Linked DNA regions of Homo sapiens: all the other regions are linked to region 3. Evidence: fine-mapped expression QTL. A gene starts in region 3. Each other region holds a variant in brackets. All regions are shown on one strand. Distances are between the middles of the regions.

Region 1 (2,761 bases), 310 kb after region 3:
GCTTCCACTGCCAGGCCACACACTAAAAGTCACAGTGATCATAGGGAGAATGGGATTAAGAGGCTTCTGCAATCCTATGGGCCTTTGTAACCAGAGCACTAATGAAAGCAGCAATCGCAGTAGAAATGTGGGCACGGTTCCATGTCTGCTGCATTTGTACCTGGCTTTAGCTGATTCACGCCTTGGCTGCCTGTAGTGGGTAGAATGGTGTGTCCCCCAAAGGACAGCGACCCACAGCCTGTGAATGTGACCATATTTGGGAAAAGGATCTTTGCAGTTGTGATTAAGTTTAGGATCTCAAGATGAGATCATTCTAGATTTAGGGTGGGTGGGCCCTAAATCCAATGACAGATGTCCTCCTAAGAGAAAGGAGGGGAAGATTTGAGACCCAGACATAGAGGAGAGAAGGCCATGTGAAAACAGGCAGAGATTGCAGCGATGCTGCCATAAGCCAAGGAACACCTGGAGCCACTAGAAGCTGGAAGAGGTGAAAAAGAATTCTCCCCTAAAGCCTCCAGAGGGTGTATGGCCCTGCTGACACCCTAATTTGGGGCATCTGCCCTGCAGAACCATCAGAGAGTAAATTTCTGTTGTTTTAAAAGCCACGCAAGTTTGTGTTAAATTTTTTAGGGCAACCTCATGGCTCATGCTCCCTTCTCTAGGATACAGGTTCTAGAAAGTGTCTGCTTCTAATAGAGACCATTCTCCTGAACATTAAAAATTGGATCCAGGCCAGATACAGTGGCTCACATCTGCAATCTCTGCACTTTGGTAGGCTAAGGCAGGAGGATCACCTGAGCCCAGAAATTCGAGACCAGCCTAGGCAACATAGTGAGACCCCCTCCTCCATCTCTACAAAAAAAAAAAAAAAAATGTTTTAAGTAGCCAGGCATGGCAGTGCATGCTTGCAGTCCTAGCTACTTGGCCAGCTGAGGCAGGAGGATCGCCTGAGCCCAGGAGTTCGAGGTTACAGTGTTCAAGATTTTGCTGAGCTACGATTGCACTGCACTCCAGCCTGGCAACAAAGTGAGACCCTGTCTCTTTAAAAAAAAAACAGAAACGTAATACTAAACCGCAGCATTCTTCATCAGTGCATTGTCTTCACAGCTTCCTTGTTGGTGTGCACAGCTTCAGCAAATAGTTCAACACAGTAGAAAGCAGGATGGTTCTGGAAACCACTACATGTGGAAGGCACTTCTGTAGACGTTTGGCTTTTTTCTTTTTTTTTCTTTTCTTTCTTC[TA/T]AAAAAAAGGGTGGGGGGATACATGTGCAGAACGTGCAGGTTTGTTACATAGGTATACGTGTGCCATAGTGGTTTGCTGCACCTATTGATCCATCCTCTAAGTTCCCTCCCCTCACCCCCCACTCCCCAACAGGCCCTGGTGTGTGTGTTCCCCTCTCTGTGTCCATGTGTTCTCAATGTTCACCTCCCACTTATGAGTGAGAACATGCAGTGTTTGGTTTTCTGTTGCTGTGTTAGTTTGATGAGGATGATGGCTTCCAGCTGCATCCATGTCCCTGCAAAGGACATGATCTCATTCCTTTTTATGGCTGCATAGTATTCCATGGTGTATATGTACTGCATTTTCTTTATCCAGTCTATCACTGATGGGCATTTGGGTTGGTTCTATGTCTTTGCTATTGTAAATAGTGCTGCAGTAAACATGTGTGCATGTGTCTTTATAGTAGAATGATTTATATTCCTTTGAGTATAATGGGATTGCTGGGTCTAACGGTATGTCTGGTTCTAGATCCTTGAGGAATCGCCACACTGTCTTCCACAATGGTTGAACTAATTTACACTCCCACCAACAGTGTAAAAGTGTTCCTGTTTCTCCACAGCCTCGCCAGCATCTATCATTTCCTGACTTTTTAATAATCGCCATTCTGACTGGCATGAGATGGTATCTCACTGCGGTTTTGATTTGCATTTCTCTGATGATCAGTGATGATGAGCTTTTTTTCATATCTTTGTTGGCCGCATTGTGTGTCTTCTTTTGAGAAGTGTCTGTTCATATCCTTTGCCTACTTTCTGATGGGGTTGTTTATCTTTTATTTTTATAAATATGTTTAAGTTCCTTGTAAATTCTGAATATTAGACCTTTGTCAGATGAGTAGATTGCAAAAATTTTCTCTTATTCTATAGATTGCCTGTTCACTCTGATGCTAGTTTCTTTTGCTGTGCAGAAGCTCTTTAGTTTAATTAGATCCCATTTGTCAATTTTGGCTTTTGTTGCAATTGTTTTTGGTGTTTTTGTCATGAAGTCTTTCCCCATGCCTATGTCCTGAATGGTATTGCCTAGGTTTTCTTCTAGGGTTTTCATGGTTTTGGGTTTTACATTAAGGTCTTCATATATTGCTTAAGCTTTCTAGAAAGTGCTTGCCCCTGATCCCTTCAAAACATTAACTTTCTGGAGTACTGTTCTGTTGTATATCTTGACCTGGGTGTGATTACCTAAATGTATACGTATGTCAAGATTCACTGAGCTGAACATCTGAAGATTTTGCACTGTGTGTGGTTTATATCTCAGTACAAAACTTTTAAAACTTAACATGCTGGGAGAGTCACGTTATGCTCCAGCCTGACTTCTGCCTTTGTATCAACATCAATCCCTTGTTTACTCATCAAAGTAGTCACCATTGTAGCAAAACAGATGCTATTAACTCACTTCACTCACACAATGCCATGTGAGGGCTATGCTGTTTTGATTCCCATTTTACAGATAGGGAAATGGAGGCACACAGAAGGTGAGGGGGCAAAC
Region 2 (2,761 bases), 130 kb after region 3:
GTGGTGCCTGCCTGTAATCCCAGCTACTGGGGAGGCTGAGGCAGGAGAACAGCTTGAACCCAGGAGGCGGAGGTTGCAGTGAGCCGAGATCATACCACTGCACTCCAGCCTGGGAGACAGAGCAAGACTCCGTCTCAAAAACAAACAAACAAAAAGAAGTAAAAAATTAAAACCTGCTGTCAACACTGATCAGGTCAAGAAATAGAATATTGACAACCCCCAAGTAGATCCTCATGTGACCTTCCTGATCCAAGATAATTATTCTGCTTTTCTACATAGCTTCATCACTTATTAATAGACTTAAACTTGTAATTGCTTCATTTTCAAAACCTTAGTGGCGGGGCCGGGTACGGTGGCTTACACCTGTAATCCCAGCACTTTGGGAGGCTGAGGCAGGCAGATCGCTTGAGCCCAGAGTTTGAGACCAACCTGGGCAACATGGGGAAACCCTGTCTCTACTAAAAACGCAAAAATTAGCTGGGAGTGGTGGTACAAGCCTGTAGTCCCAGCTACCTGGGAAGCTGAGGTGGCAGGATCACCTGAGCCCGCCAGGGAGGTGGAGGTTTCAGTGAGCCGTGATTGCACTACTGCACTCCAGCCTGGGTGACCAGAGTGATACCCTGCCTCAATACAAAACAAACAAACAAACAAACAAACAAAAACCTTGGCCGGGTGTGGTGGCTCACACCTGTAATCCCAGCACTTTGGGAGACCAAGGTAGGCAGATCACCTGAGGTCAGGAGTTCAAGACCAGCCTGGCCAACATGGCGAAATCCTGTCTCTACTAAAAATACAAAAATTAGCCAGGCATGGTGGCATGTGCCTGTAATCCTAGCTACTCAGGAGGCTGAGGCAGGAGAATCCCTTCAACCTAGGAGGTGAAGGTTGTGGTGAGCTGAGATTGTGCCACTACACTCCAGCCTGGGCGACAGAGTGAGATTCCGTCTCAAAACAAACAAACAAACAAACAAACAAACAACAGCAACAGCAAAAAACCTTAGTGGAAGACACAATCTAAGCATTTAAGGGAAGAGTCCCAGGCCATTAGTAGATGAAGGCTTTCAGAAGAAGAGAGGTTGACCTGTCCTGGTCATTATCTGCCTTCAGCTTCCCGGGAATGTGTAGAGCCCACCACCATCAGGACACTAGCAGAGTTGTGGACATGGTATTGGATATGCAGAAGAAATATGGCCAAAGAGATTGGACTGCCCTCTGTGTTTTGCTTTCAAGCTCACCACAGCCTGCCTCCAGTACCTCCAGTTCCCAGGTGTAGGGCAACACAGAACATCCCTGTGGGGTGAAGTGAGTGGCCTCCACTGATC[C/T]GGCCAGCAGGACCAGGAAAGCAGAGCAGGAAATTCACCAGACAAAGGGTCAAGCCAGACCTCTTCCAGGGTGGGGGACAGGCAGATGCCTGGGGACACAGAGTCAGAGAGGGGATTCAGAGATCTGCCTGCTCCTTAACCAGCTTCCAGCCCAACCCCATTACGCTGACCATGTCCCCCCATTCCACTTTACCTCCCAGATCTGGGAACATCTAGAGCTCCTCCTCCTGAGGCTTGGGAAGATTCTGCCGTATAGACCACGATCCTTTCCAGTTTTCTCCTCTGCTGTCTTGTGATTCAGCTTCCTTGGTGCTGTGTAGTCAGTTAATCCTGGTCTATCTGCATTTTAGTTTCATAAATTATGATGCTGTTATCTCCTCTCCTATTCTCTCTATCCTGGTGGGATTTTGTCTTTAAAAACAAAACAAAACACAAACTCTTACTGTAGTTTTAATGAGACTCTGGGAGGAAGAGAATTTAGATGCTTGCATTAAACTGCTGTCTAATTCCAGAAGTCTCCAAAGGAAATCCTGCCACTCCCTTCTTCGGTTGCCCGAACATGACGGTTAGTTGGATGGCTCCCTTGGAAGCCCAAGGTGCCATCAGGGAGATACTGAGAGAATTTGAGGCTGGGAAGGCAGGTGGGGGTTGGGGTGAGGGTTATGTTTTGAATATTGCTTCATATTGAAGCATTTGTAGTATTTGCGGTTAAGAGCCTGGATTTTCATGTAAGTCAACTCCAGGTTCAGCTTCCAGCTCTGCCAGTTACATATGGTGTGACTTTGAGCAAGTTACTTTGCTTTTCTGAACCTTATTTTCCCCACCTGTTAAGTGGGGATCATAATGGTACCCATCTTTCAGGCTTGCCATGGGTATTGAATGTTTCACTTAGTAAACATTTACAGCGTTTCACTCAGTGCCTGGCACATTGTATGTGTTCAATACATGGTAGCTATTGTCATCATCATTATCGTCATCATCATGAGAAAATAGAAACCTTCCAGAAACTGTCAGGGCAACGATTGCCACAGGCCGTTGTTGGCTACTAAAACTCTAGACTCTGGAGAGCCTTGATGCCCTTCCTCTTTTACCCCGTCCCTGATGCTCCCCCAAGTAGCATGATGCCCAGTGGCCCACCAACCTCATTACCCAGCATTGCTGACAACAGGCACAGCCTTGGTCACTGTGAAAATGCCCCACAGCCTCAACCTCAGAAGTGGGAAGTATACTGCAGATTCACTCTATGCCAAGCACTATGGGATATCCACAGGAATGTGCCACAGTGAGGTAACTGCCCAGGGGATAGTAATTCCTTCATTTCTTTATACATTATGGATTCTACCATTTTGTTATTGGGTTATTTTTCCCCTTGTCAAAGTAGCAATTTATCAGTTGAACTTAATTCTCTAATTAAATTTCAAATCTGAGAATTTACATGA
Region 3 (2,761 bases):
TGGAGAGAATGCAGTTCACTAACTGCCACCTGAGAGCCCTGGTCCCCGCTGCCGCCACAGCGGGTCTGTTTGGCAGTCAGGGCGCGAGCTGGTGAGCGGATGCGTGGGCGGAGGGACTGGCGCTACCCACCCAGCAGCCACCCACTGCAGGTGAGTGCCCCTCCCAGGGCGAGGGGAGGAGAAGGGCCTGGCCGCTAGCCCTAGGGTCAGGCTCTGGTGAAAATGGGAAGGGGGATGGGGGCTGAATAGGCTACTTTGTGATGAGACTCCCGTCCCTGTGACACTTCAGGGTCCTCTGGGGATCTGTCATTCCTCTTGCAAGCTCTCTTGTTCTCTGGTCCCTCTCCTCCTCTCCTTATTTCCTCCTCTCCTCTCCTCTCCTCTCATCTCCTCTCCTCTCCTCTCCCTTCATCGTGTCTCTACCTCTATCTCCGCCGGTGCCTCTCTCGGTATCTGTCTCTCAGTCTCTGCCTTCTCTGTGTCTCGTACGGTCTCCTGTCTTTCTTGGTCTCTCGGTCCTGAGCGCTCTCTCGCCCTGTCACTGATGACCGCTGGCTTTTGGCTCTCCGTGCTCGCTCTTCGTGTGTCCCGGCCACGCACGGCTCACCAGCTCGTTTTCCCCAGACGCGGAAAGTCTACCTTCGGCGTGCGGGTTTCCCAAGCGCGCCGGGCCCCGCCTGCGGCCCTCCGGCGGGCTCTGTCTGCTGGAGGCGCTCCGCTAACCCTGCTGTCGCCTCTTTCCACCAGCGCACCGCCTAGGCAAGCCAGCTGACGCCGGGGGCACAGACCACCCTCCACTGAGTGCGGAGCAGCCAAGGTGAGTGCACCGATGCCCCTTCCGCCCCTCCGATCCCTCCCCAGCTGCCCTGGTTCGAGCCGACTGGAGAAATGAGGCTGCAACAGCGAAGCCAGCCTGCGGCCGCTTTCTCCTCTAAAGACTGGTGGGAGGGCCCGGGAGGCCCCTCGGGCGGCCGCAGCTCTTTGGCTGCCCGCTGCCCCATCCCGGAGTGGAAACCCTGAGTTTCCAGGCTTCGGGCTGGCGGGGTCGCGGGCAGGGCAGCGCGGCTTCCCCTTTAAGGCCGGAGCCGCTCGTCGCCGTGAGTGTGAGGGTGTGTGAGTGTGCGGCGTGCGTGTCTCCTCCTCCCCGAGTGACACAGCAGTGAGAAATGCCTATCAGTAACTTAAACCCCCGAAACTCCACCTTCCGGGCGCGCGGCGCGGAGCCGGGCGGTGGGAATGGAGCGAGCAGATTGAGGCCGCCACTGCAGCGCCGCCAGCATGAACTTGGCCGCGAGCTGAAGCGGCCGGCGGCGGGCGGGCGCGGGGGCACCGGCCGCTAGCCAGGGGGTGATCTGCAACAGGGCTGGGTTCCTTGGCGGCCGCCTGAGTCCAGGCTGCCCGCGCCGGCGGCCGCCCGCCCCTCGGACACTGCCCCCGCCGCCGCCGGAGCTCTGCAGCACGGTAAGGCTGAGGGCGGGTGCAGGAAGTCTGACTGTTCTGGGGGTTCCGGGGTACACTTGTAGCCCCCAGTTATGGTCCCCATCGCTGAGGATCGGGGTCCCAGGGGTGCTTCGAGTCGGTAGACCCTAAAGTTTGCTCTGAGCACACGGCCCACCTGGCGCTGCGGGCGGCCACCCCCTTCTCGAACCAGCCCGGCTGGGCTGGGCGCAGCTCGAAACGCCGGAGACCACGGCCTTTGGCTCGGCGCCCGTCGGGCGTCTGAAATCCGGCGGGGACAGCCACGTACCGGGGAGGAAAGGTAGAAGGGCGCAAGCTCCTCGGGCTACGCTGGGCTACTGGGAGGCTCCCACTCTGTCCCAGCACCCCCGGGTCGCTTGCAGCCTGGGTGTCACCGGCGACGGTGCCTTCACATGCCAGCTGCCTGAGCCCAGGCCAGTAGGCAGTGGGCGCTGGATGAAGGATTTCCCCACCCCAACGCTGTTTGCCGCCTCTGAGCGAGAGTGTGGAGTGTGCGCGCCGAATCCGCTGCCCTGCACTCCCTCCCCTGCCAACTCCTGGGAAGCGCAGCCCGGAGCTGAGCTGGTGTTCAGGGCAGCCCGGACTGGGTTCCTGCGGAGCAGCCCCGGCGCCCCTGCGTCAGAGTCCGCGCTTCAGGTTCCCCAGCATCCGCGCGACGACAGAGCTGGGCGCCCGGCGCCGGCTAGCGCGGGCGGGAAGCCCCCCGGAGCGCCGCCAAATACTTTTCTCGGCCAGTTGGCTTGGCCAGGCTCCGTCCCAATGCAGTGTGTCCGAAGCCTCCTGGAAAGCTGGAGATGTCGTCTGATTCTGATCCGTGATTAAATTCGGACTGAGCAGACACTAATAGGATTAGCCTGCCAGAAAGCTCGGCCCTGAAGCCATCGGAACCTGTGCAAACACGCGCCTCGGGCTGGAGCATTCACTCCCGCCCCGCCGCGCTTCTGCAGCTGGGTGCGGCTGACCTGGGCACCCGGAGTGTGGGTGTGTGTGAGCGGGCGGGAGCACAGCGTGGCTGGGGGACGTGGGGAGAAGGGGCTGCTTTTGCTGGGGTGGCTTGTCGTTGTTGTTTGGCACCACGGTGCCCCCCGGGGGCGCGGTCCCCACGGTGAACGTGCTGCTCACGGGTAGGCAAACCCAGGCCGGCTCCGGGACATTGTCTGCAAGGGCGAGCGAGCCGAGCTTACTAGAGGCGGCTGCGCTGGAACAAAGGCGCAAAGTCTCCCTGAGACCAAGCAATTTTGAAAGAGTTGGCTAGGGAGAGGGCCTGGGTCTCCCGGGGTAG

Alleles and levels. Alleles are on the strand shown, and positions count from the first base shown. SD is a standard deviation of normalised expression in the study named. Not every link is listed here.
In carriers of allele C in region 2, the expression in left ventricle of the gene that starts at base 1,248 in region 3 tends to be higher than with T alone (small effect, 0.13 SD a copy in GTEx).

What was found. PIP is the estimated chance that this variant, and not a neighbour inherited with it, causes the effect.
Region 1: its variant is the best candidate, but not a certain one, in a credible set for the expression of MAMLD1 in whole blood (TOPMed, PIP 0.51).
Region 2: its variant is the best candidate, but not a certain one, in a credible set for the expression of MAMLD1 in left ventricle (GTEx, PIP 0.60).

Annotation. Positions count from the first base shown.
Region 1 is chrX:150,667,675-150,670,435 of GRCh38, forward strand. The region is part of intron 14 of MTM1 (myotubularin 1); the gene reads left to right. Among named protein-coding and RNA genes, the nearest start is that of MTMR1, 24 kb to the right of the region's middle. The variant TA/T (reference allele first, on the strand shown) is at 1,242.
Region 2 is chrX:150,494,258-150,497,018 of GRCh38, forward strand. The region is part of intron 5 of MAMLD1 (mastermind like domain containing 1); the gene reads left to right. It overlaps LOC124905223 (a long non-coding RNA gene), which reads left to right. Exons shown (of 2, transcript XR_007068346.1): 2 at 1-2,761. Among named protein-coding and RNA genes, the nearest start is that of MTM1, 73 kb to the right of the region's middle. The variant C/T (reference allele first, on the strand shown) is at 1,323.
Region 3 is chrX:150,362,070-150,364,830 of GRCh38, forward strand. It overlaps MAMLD1 (mastermind like domain containing 1), which reads left to right and starts at 1,248. Exons shown (of 8, transcript NM_005491.5): 1 at 1,248-1,461.